Regions from separate parts of the Homo sapiens genome. Here region 2 is linked to region 1. The links come from fine-mapping of genetic effects on gene expression. Tissue or cell type: cultured neurons. Region 1 holds a variant in brackets; the other region holds the start of a gene. All regions are shown on one strand. Distances are from middle to middle.

Evidence for each region. PIP is the estimated chance that this variant, and not a neighbour inherited with it, causes the effect.
Region 2: SYN3 starts here. The variant in region 1 is fine-mapped to the expression of SYN3 in cultured neurons (Aygun 2021, PIP 0.95).

Annotation. Positions count from the first base shown.
Region 1 is chr22:33,079,356-33,084,584 of GRCh38, reverse strand. It overlaps a transcript of LARGE1 not described here. Among named protein-coding and RNA genes, the nearest start is that of SYN3, 24 kb to the right of the region's middle. The variant G/T (reference allele first, on the strand shown) is at 2,305.
Region 2 is chr22:33,055,722-33,060,950 of GRCh38, reverse strand. It overlaps SYN3 (synapsin III), which reads left to right and starts at 2,570. Exons shown (of 14, transcript NM_003490.4): 1 at 2,570-2,659.

The DNA.
Region 1 (5,229 bases):
CTCTTGGGGTTCAAGCAATCCTCCCACCTCAGCTCCCAAGTAGCTGGGACTACAGGTGTGAGCCACCACACCAGGCTTTTTTTTTTTTTCGAGAGACAAGGTCTCACTATGTTGTCCAGGCTGGTCTCAAACTCCTGGGCTCAAGCCATCCTCCCACCTTGGTCTCCCAAAGTGTTGAGATTAAAGGCATGAGCCACTGTGCCTGACCTTGCATTATATTTCTATCAGACAGCAATGAGGGTATAGACATCAATAAGACCTAGTTCCTTCCTTCAAGCAGAAAACTAAACACAGAAACAGCCAATCATAAAACATTATGGAAGTCAAGGGATGGAATTCAAAGATGCTGAAGAAGTATCAGAGAGTGTACCTAACTCAGCTTGGGGAAACCAAGGAGGACTTCTTTGAGGAGGCGATAACTGAATTTGATCTTAAAAGAGGAGTAGAGATTAAATAAATAAGAAAAAATAAACATGACTTTCCAATGGAATGGTCATTTTCAACAATGGGCTATAGGAGTGAAGTAGCAAACTCATGTGGGAGACAAAAAGCAGTTCTGGTTTACTGGGGTGTAAAGTGTAAGGAAGATATGGCTGGAGATCAGGCTGAAGAGGCAAATTAGATCATGAGGGGCCTGGTAGATTGTGCTAAGATTGGGACTTATTCTATAGGTGACAGCTAAGGGTTTTAAGTAGAGCACTCAGGCAGTAAACCCTGTAAACTCTTGCTGGGAGGTTTTCCTTTCCCAATCTGTTTCACTGTGGAAGTGGGAGTACTGATCATTTTCATTGCTTGATTGAACTGAGTCAGTGGCAGGGACCTTTCTCAAGAGATGACCTCTTACATTGTGTGGCAGCTGGTTTCGTGTCACTAGAGACAGTCCTCCCTCATTCAACACACTTCGAACTCACAAAGCTGATTAATTTAGCCTTAAATCTCAGCATTTATTTATTCCACTGATCACTATCTGATATATTATATATTTTTTCATGGTTCAGACTTTCCCCTACTGAAATGTAAGCTGAGTGAAACAGAGACTCTGTCAGTTCATGACTATATCCTTAGAGACTTTCATATAGCAAGTGCTCAGTGAGTACTTTTGAACAAATAATCACATTAGATAAGATAGTGACACCTACTGACAATGTGTAGTATTGTAATCTAGCTCTACTGCACTCTGTAATTACTTGGATATGACACCTAAGGAAGACAAATTCCATCAGCAGGGAGTCCCTATCTCTGAATGATGCTGACTTAACTGGCCCAAAATTACAACAAGTGAAAAGTCAAGGAAGGCAAATGCATACCTAGAAAATTATGGCAGCCTAGCATAGTGAAAGAACAGAGACTTGAGACTCACATTGACATGGGTTTTCCTCCCCACCTCAGGTATTTACTTGCTGTGTGACACTGGGCAAAGTAATTCACATCTCTAAGCCTTAATTTCCCCATTCATAAGAAAAGGCAATAAAACCAACAGTGTTTTGATATTAGAAATGATATATTTAGAGTGTCTACTGTAAATGGTAGTTTATTATTTTTATTTTTATTTTTATTTTGAGACGGAGTCTTCACTGTGTCACCCAGGCTGGAGTGCAGTGGCATGATCTCAGCTCACTGCAAGCTCCGCCTCCCGGGTTCACACCATTCTCCTGCCTCAGCCTCCCAAGTAGCTGGGACTACAGGTGCCCGCCACCACGCCCGGCTAATTTTTTGTATTTTTAGTAGAGATGGGGTTTCACCGTGTTAGCCAGGATGGTCTCGATCTCCTGACCTCATGATCCACCCACCTCAGCCTCCCAAGGTAGTTTATTAAGTATTAGTTTCTGTATAAGGCTTTATGGAGGGGAGGGAACTTGTCTGTTGCTAACTATCTCTCCTTCATTGTGGTCCGGAAGGAGCTTTGAAATCATTCCCATGCATTTGGTTTTTCAGAGAAGGTATTTCTCTGCTCATTTCATTGCAGGCCATTTCCTGGCCTTGCACAGTGAGTGAATAAGTAAATGCGTAGATTGCTCAGACTTCTGAGATCAGAAACCTTTCTCAGGAGGTTTTCCAGGCACAAGAAAATCAATAGCAGATGTCAAGCAGCTTCAAAGCTGATTACCTTGAAATGAATGGTCACACCTCCTTTCCAGCCAGGTCTCCATCTTTCTCTTGTTCAAGGGTCAGCTGCAATACATTAGATCCCTAATTAAGAAAGAAGATGATCAGCAAATGACTCCTCTGAGCAGAATACTAAACAACCGGAAGGGTCTTGGAACAGATCTGCTGGCATCTGCACAGAGGAAGAACATGTAGATA[G/T]AATTGAAGCTGCCTTAATTGGTAGTGGTGTAGGGATTGTATTTCACTGCTCTGCTGGGAGTAATAAAGGCCGACATTATAATCAGTGCGGCAGTAGAGAAATGGAAACTTAGAATCTGAGCTGCTCTGCTATTCAACTAGAGCCAGTGAAAAGGAAATGGATACTCTTGGCTGGTTGAAAATGTAGAGCCTCCACCAAATAATTAAAATACCCTTGGCAGGGTAAAACTAGACCCTACACCTAATAATAATAATAATAACAACGACAATAACAACAATATTATCTATGGAGTGAAGCTGACCTCGATTTAAATTCTTTGTCTATTACCCATTTAGCCTAAAGCATATTGCTTAGCCTCCCTGAATCTCCCTGAATCTTATCATTTATAAAATGGGATCATGGAAAATGTTAAATAATTAATCTATCATAACTGGCAGAATTCCCAGCACAGAGAAAGCTTGCAGACAATGAAAATCTCTTTCTCCCCTCCCTTTCCCTATGTGCTATTCAAAGTGTCTTTATATTTGTCAGATGTTCCCAGTCTAGGTTCTGGATAGACATGAGGGTAGAAGGCTACAAAACCTCTGGTATTTTATGCAAAATGTCATATGAATGTGGTCTTTTCTGATGAGCATGTCCATAGTTTTCAGCAGATTCTCAAAAAGGGTTAATCTCTCAAAAAGTTTGAAAAAATCCCTGGTATATTTTATCTTTCTTTTATGACTTGGCCTCTGCTTCCCCCTGCACCCGTATTGCCTACTGTTTTCTTCCTCATCACTGTATTCCAGCTACTCTGACTCCCTTTATTCCTCAAAGATGCCATGCTCATTCCTGCCTCAGTCTTTTACTTATCATTCTTTCTCCTCCCTACGTCTTCACATGCAAAACTTAGCTCACAGGTTACTTCTGGAGATGGTCCTTCCCTGACATCCTAATCCAAAGAATCTTCTCCAGTTACTTTCTATTGTATCAGTATTAATCTGTTCAGGCAGCTATAGATTGCTGCATAGACTGGGTGATTTAAACAATAGACATTTATTTCTCACAGTTCTGGAGGCTGGGAAGTCCAAGATCAAGGTGCCAGCTAATTCAGTTCCTGGTTAACGTTCTCTTCCTGACTAGTAGATGGCCACTTTCTCATTATGCTGTCACATGGCAAAGAGAGAGTGATTACCTTCAAAAGGCCCTATGTCCACATACCTCACACTGGGGAATAGGGATCCAACATATGAATTCTGAGGCAAAACAGTTCAGTCCAGAACTGTGTGCCAATTACTACAAGAGTGGATGGATGGATGGATGGATGGATGGATGGATGGATGGATGGAAGACAGATGGATGAACGGATGAGCAGATGGATAGATGGATGGATGGATGACTTTTGAGTGCATCCCTGTAAGGCATAGAAGAAAAGTTTCTTTTCCCATTTTACAGATGGGTAAACTGAACCGAGGTTCAGTGCCTCAGAAAAGGCTTATGGACAGCAGTTAAGAGTATTCTCTGGAGCTAACTGCCTGAATTCAAATCCCAGCTTTACCACTTATAAATTATGTAACTTTGGGCAAGTTACTTAATCTCTCTGTTCTTCAGTGTCCTCATCTGCAAAATGCTGCTAATAATTATATATGATATTAGTCATTAGAGCTGTTCACCAGTATTCTGATTCTTCCACTTCTAGGCACATAAGCCATGTGTTCCATGCCCACGTGAAGTTAGGTCTGGATATCAAATGTGAGCTGAAGTGTCTGTGTCATCCCCTTGTGGAAACTTTTAAGAGCTAATGTGAGATTTGCCCTTTCCTGTTCTCTGACATAAAATCTGAAACATTCTGTATGAAGGTCATTTTCTTAGCCTGCATCCTGGGGTGAAGACAGAGTGGAACGGAATTCCCATGAACCTACAACGAACAAAGAGCACGAGTGAGAAACAAACTACTGAGATCTGGTGGTTGTTTGTTATCACAGCATAACCTAGCTAAGCTTGACAAATACACATATATACCAACTTACTGAGCTCTTGTAAGAATTAAATGAGGTGATGCAAGTAACATGATTCAAAAACATCTGGCACATAGTAGACACTACATAAGTGCTTGCAATAATTATTACTCAGTGAATGTCGAAGCTAAGACTAAAACTCATGTTTCCTGGGGCTATAATTATAAAACAAATTTTACTGCACTTTTTAATTCTTAAATCTACAAAGGAACATTTGAGAGGAAGAGGGGAGGATCCACAGAAGCCTTCCCTCCACATGCCTGCCACCTCTGGCTCTAAGAAACCCAGCACCTGGAGGCAATGAGGACAAGTTCCTGAGCACATGCAAGAGGACAGTCCCCCTGATAGCTCTCTTGTGCTCTGCCAGGCCAATGATGCCATTGTCGGAGAAAAGAGCCATGATCAATTTTCATGGGTTTTGCCCTCAACGGGTCATTCCTGTTCATCTTTTCCTTCCTTCTTCTTTTCTTGGGGGCTCAGAGTAAAATTATGTCTTAAGGGGAAAGTTCCAAGCAGCACTACTTGCTAGGTTCTTCTAAGCAGAATGGACAACTCATTTATTGCCAACCAACTTTGTAAGGAAACTAGAGTTTCCTTAAACGAACTGGGTTGGTACCTCTGAAAAGCTTAGAGACACTTGAAAACAAATAATAGAGTGTGATCCAGTCTAGTCTATCTTATCAGTAACATAGCAGTGAGGAGTTAATAGGCATCAAAAATAATAAAAGTTGTAGGTAATAAGAATGATAACTAGATGGCCAGGTGTGGTGGCTCACGCCTGCAATCCCAGAACTTTGGGAGGCCAAGACGGGCAGGTCATGAGGTCAGGAGATCGAGACCATGCTGGCTAACACAGTGAAACCCCATCTCTACTGAAAATACAAAAAATTATCCGGGCGTGGTGGCGGGCGCCTGTAGTCCCAGCTA
Region 2 (5,229 bases), 24 kb after region 1:
GGGCGGATCATGAGGTCAGGAGATCGAGACCCTCTTGGCTAACGCGGTGAAACCCCATCTGTACTAAAAATACAAAAAATTAGCTGGACGTGGTGGCGGGCGCCTGTAGTCCCAGCTACCTGGGAGGCTGAGGAAGGAGAATGGCGTGAACCCGGAAGGCAGAGCTTGCAGTGAGCCGAGATTGCACCACTGCAATCTCGACAATCCACTGCAATCCAGCCTGGGCGACAGAGCGAGACTCCGTCTCAGAAAAAAAAAAAAAAAAAGTTGTAGTTAATTACCAGCATTTAAAAAAACCAGAGATTTAACATAATCTGAATTTCTGGCCTCTTAATAAAAATCAGGGTCTGGTGTGGTGGCTCACGCCTATAATCCCAGCACTTTGGGAGGCCAAGGTGGGCAGATCACGAGGTTAGAAGTTCGAGACCAGTCTGGCCAACATGGTGAAACCCTGTCTCTACTAAAAATACACAAATTAGCCAGACGTGGTGGTGGGCGCCTGTAATTCCAGCTGCTTGGGAGGCAGGAGAATTGCTTGAACCAGGGAGGCGGAGGTTGCGGTGAGCTGAGATCGCACCACTGCACTCTAGCCTGGGTGACAGAGCAGGACTCAGTCTCGATAAAAAACAAACAAACAAAAAACAGAACATCTGGCAACTCTGGGTGGGTCTCCATTCACATATGGCAAAAATCAGTTGGAGCTGAGCAGTGACTGTCACCTTAGGCAGGTGTGCATACCTCAGTCTGTCACAAGCCCCATCCCTCCTTTCTATTATACCCTGCCAACCTCACTTAGTACATGACTACCCGGCCACGTCGGTATTAAAGTTTGTGATCCTTCAGCTAGTCTTATGCCCTCTTAGTTACTGAGGTTAGAGTCACTCCCTCTTAGTTACTGAGATCATGTACTAACGCTCATGCAGTAAGTGGAAGATGCTGGGTAAGAACCTTCCCGATCTTGGAAATAGTACCATTACTCCACAGTGGCTCAAGCTAAACACCTAGGAGATTTTCTTCTTTCATCCCTTTACGTCAACCCCTGTCATAGTCTATTTTGTGCCAATATAACAGAATATCACAGACTGGGTAATTTATAAGGAACAACAATTTATTTAGCTCATGGCTCTGGAGGCTGGGAAGTCCAAGATTGAGGGGCTGCATCTGGTAAGGGCCTTCATGCTGAGTCACCCCATGGCACAAGGCAGAACAAGAGAGCAGCAGAGGGGTGGGGAGAGGGCCACTCCTGGCATTAATGGAATCACCTCTTAAAGGTCCCACCTCTCAACACTGTTGCATTGGGGATTAAGTTTCCAAGATATGAACTTTGGGGAACATATTTAAACCATAGCATCCCCTAAATCCAGCCTAATCCATCATCAAGCCTTCCTGTGCTACTTTTGACACACATTGCAGGAGGTCCACCTTTTCCGTATCTTGCTGTCACCACCCTGGTCTTCATCACCATAATCTCTTGCCTGAATTGTTCCCTCCAGATTGATATGACAAAGCCCTGACCCTCACGGTGGCCTACAAGGTTCTGGGTGATGGTGATTCCACACTAGTCTACCTCTCTGGCTGTAACCCACTCTCCCCTTGCTCACCTCACTCAGCCACCCTGGGGGCCAGTTCCAGCTTCAGAACCATGCATCGGCCGACCCCTCTGTCAGCAATGCTCTTGCTTCAGCCCTGGAATCGTTTTTGTCCTCCAAGTATCCAATATCACAAGCGGCCCGGAGACCACCCTAGGTATAGCAGTCCTAGACCCCTTTCTTTTTCTTTTCTTTTTTTTGGAGACGGCATCTAGCTCTGTTGCCCAGGCTGGAGTGCAGTGGCTCTAACTCGGCTTACTGTAACTTCCACCTCCCGGGTCCAAGCAATTCTGCCTCAGCCTCCCGAGTAGCTAGGACTACAGGTGAGGGCCACCATGCCCAGCTAATTTTTGTATTTTTAGTAGAGACGGGGTTTTATCATCTTGGCCAGGCTGGTCTTGAACTCCCGACCTCGTGATTCACCTGCCTCGGCCTCCCAAAGTGCTGGGATTACAGGCGTGAGCCACAGGCACCCAGCCGACATTCTCTTGTTTTTTTCGTTTGTTGTATATAACCTACCCCCACCTCCACCCCATGCAAAGTCCACGAGGACGATAGACTTTGTCTTGTTCCCTGTTGCATCCTGGCCCTAGGGCCTAGCCCACAACCTGGGACATTTCCTGACAAGGGGCCCTGGTTTCTCTGAGGTGCCACCTGAGGTCCGGGAGGTCAGCTGACTTTCCCAAAGGTGGATTCCAAGGACACTGCATTCTTCGCACTCCCCGAGGGGCGTCTAGACACTCCTGGGACCCAGAATTATTAGCTAACTGGGCTCCTGAGTCCGGTGAGAGCTCAGAGTCTAGAAGCAACTTTCCCTGCCTGGAGAGGTGAACCCAGCAAGGCGTTGGGGAGAGGCGTGGGCGAGGGAGTGGGCGCGGGTGGGCGGGGCCGTCCGGGGGCCTCGTTGCCCGAGCCAATGGGGCGCCGCGGCGCGGGGAGGCCGGGCCGCCGGGCGGGGGCGCTCGCGCGCGTTGAGGGGCAGAGGCTGAGCTCCCGGGACCCGGAGCGGATCGACTGGCGGGCGCCGCGCCGAGGCACCACCGGGCGCCGAGTTCCTGGCGGCTCGCACGGTAAGCGGCGCGGCGCCGCAAAGTAGACTTTGTGGGGTTTCTGACAGCCGGGAGACCCCACCTCGAGCGGGGGCTGCTGGTGCGTTCTCGCGTCGGGCTGCGTCCCCTGGAGCTCCGGCTCTGTGTCCGCGGGATGCGGGCGCACGGAGGGGCAGGGAGGGAGGCAAGGAGCCGCGCACCACGGTGTCTCCCCAGGCTGCCGCTGCCGGGGCCCTGGGCCGGTCCCTGGGACAGACAGATCGGCGTGCGGGGGCCGTCTGCCGGGCCCGGGAGCCGGGGGCGCGCAAGACTGTGGATCCTAAGACTGCCTCCACCCAGCGCCCGGCCCGGGGAAGAGCTTGCGGGAAACCAGGAACCGCAGCGGCCGGACCTCTGCTCTGCGCCGGCTCCTAGGACCTGCCTTAGGTCCCCAGACCCCTCATGACCTGTTGCCTTGGGTTTGGGAGGTCAGGTTTGTCATGCCATTTCCGATTTCCAGTCATCCTGGGGGCAGGATGAAATTTCAGAGTGGTTTCCTGGCCAAGCTAGAAGCAGAGAATAGCTATGGATACAGCACCTCGTGTATCTATCCAGCACTTACTTGGCTTTTTCTGAGTGCCAGGAACTGTGCCAAGCCCTAGCAGCATGAAGAATGGCCTTTGGGGAGCTTCTGGGGCTAAGAGGGACAGTAGGAGGAGCAATTGCAGTGCAGGGTAGTGCGGAAGACTCGAGATGGAGAAGAGGACGGTGAGGAAGCCAGGAAGGTTTCAGAGAGGAGGTGAGCATTGACTGGAAGTCGGAGGTTTTGCCAGGCTGAAAAGTGTGTTGGGACTGTGAGTTGATAGGGAGCAGGAATTCCAGGTGGGTTTTCTTGTGTAAAGGTAAAGAAACTGAAAAGGTCCGGTGTCCTGACCTAGCACATCAGATAATTCTACAGCAGATAATGGAGTAGGACCGGGTCTTGCTGTAGGTAGGAAATGAGCTCTCGACATGGCAGGAAGCTAAAACCTGCACAGACCTTAAAGTGCAGCCTTAGAATATTTAGAATTTTATCCTGGAATGAAGGAGGGCCGTGGAAGAATTCTGATCAGTGATCAGGTCCCTCTGGCAGCTCTGGGGACAATGGATGGAGGCCGGAGCATCAGAAAGCTGGTAAGTTGTAGTTGTTTTCTGGTCCTTGGCTGCAAATACTCTTCCCTGCTTAAGGGAGCCCCCTCTGCCCGGGAGCCCTGCTCCCTGGCTTCTGGACATGGATTCAGGCAAAGAGATGCTGCCCGTGTAATGCTTGCTTCTGCAGCCTGCACATCATTTTGATATTGTTTCTGGAGCCTGTGACCTCAGTCTTGTCATCAGGCCTCTGAAGGGTGCCTCTGCTCTTCTTTTCTCATCTTCAAGCCCTCTGTGTGCCCTTCCCCTCTGCCTGGGCTCCCCTTTCTGTTTCACAGAGATCCAGTCTCAGCCATTGGAGGCAAGGCTGTGTGTAGATTGGTGTAGTAGAAAGAACAAGGGCTCGCTGGGAAATCAGACCAGAAAGTCACTTTAGCCATAGGCTTTGGGGACATTAGCAACCTTCATGAACCTTCTTTTTCTGATTTAAAAGGAAATCATTGTACTCACCTGTCATGGTTTGGGTTCCCTGGAAAAAGACTTGGCGCTTCTGAGATTTTTGTGCAGATAAGGGAAGCAGAACTGGGCAGAGGGAGATGTTGATCTATGGTGCAGTGCAAGAGAGGTCTCAATCCCTCCCATGAGACAAAGAGACGAGGCCTTTGAAGCTTAATGTTGATCAGCCAGTGGGTGCAGGCTGGTCCTAGGGAGGGAGCTAGGATGTCCCTTCAGCAGGACAGTTCCTGACTAGGGACTCACCTGGGAGCTGGGGTAACCAACACTCTGGCAGCTGGACATGGGGAAGTCATGAGTGTCTTGGTCTTGGAGGGGGAGTTGAGCATTTCCCCACGGTATCCACTACACTACCTCACAAATGAAGTAGTGCTTTGTACTGTGCCTGGTGCATAGTAGATATCTTAAAAGTATTCATTTCTCTCACCTTTAAGTTTCATGACTGCACCTGAAAATGAGTTTTGGAATTCGAGTTGAGTCAGCTTTTGTGAGGAGCTTTTAATAATAATAGCCACGAAGACTACTGCTTCCCTTTTTTGAGTGTCTATTATGTATATACATTCTCTTCTAGTTGTCCAATAATACTCCAACTTAGGTACTTTTATTCTCATTTTATAGTAAACCCAGTCTCTTCCAAAACCCAACCAAGTTGATGTTCTTTTGCCACAAAATAATAATTATAATAATAACAATCACTCACAACTCTATGATTTGTTACACTTTCCAAAGTGCTTTCATTGGTGGATTGATTGATTAATCATTCATTCATCCACTAATTAATCAATCAATGTGTATTGAGTGTCTCTTAAGGAGTAGGCGCTATCCTAGGTGATGGGGAGAAAGCTCAGTCTATTAGAGGAGATAGACATTAAATGCTTGGATTCATCAAAAGCAAGTGTTGAGGGGTGGAACATTGCATTGCATAGCCAGTATGTGATAGAGAATAACAGGCTCTTTGTCCAATTGACTCC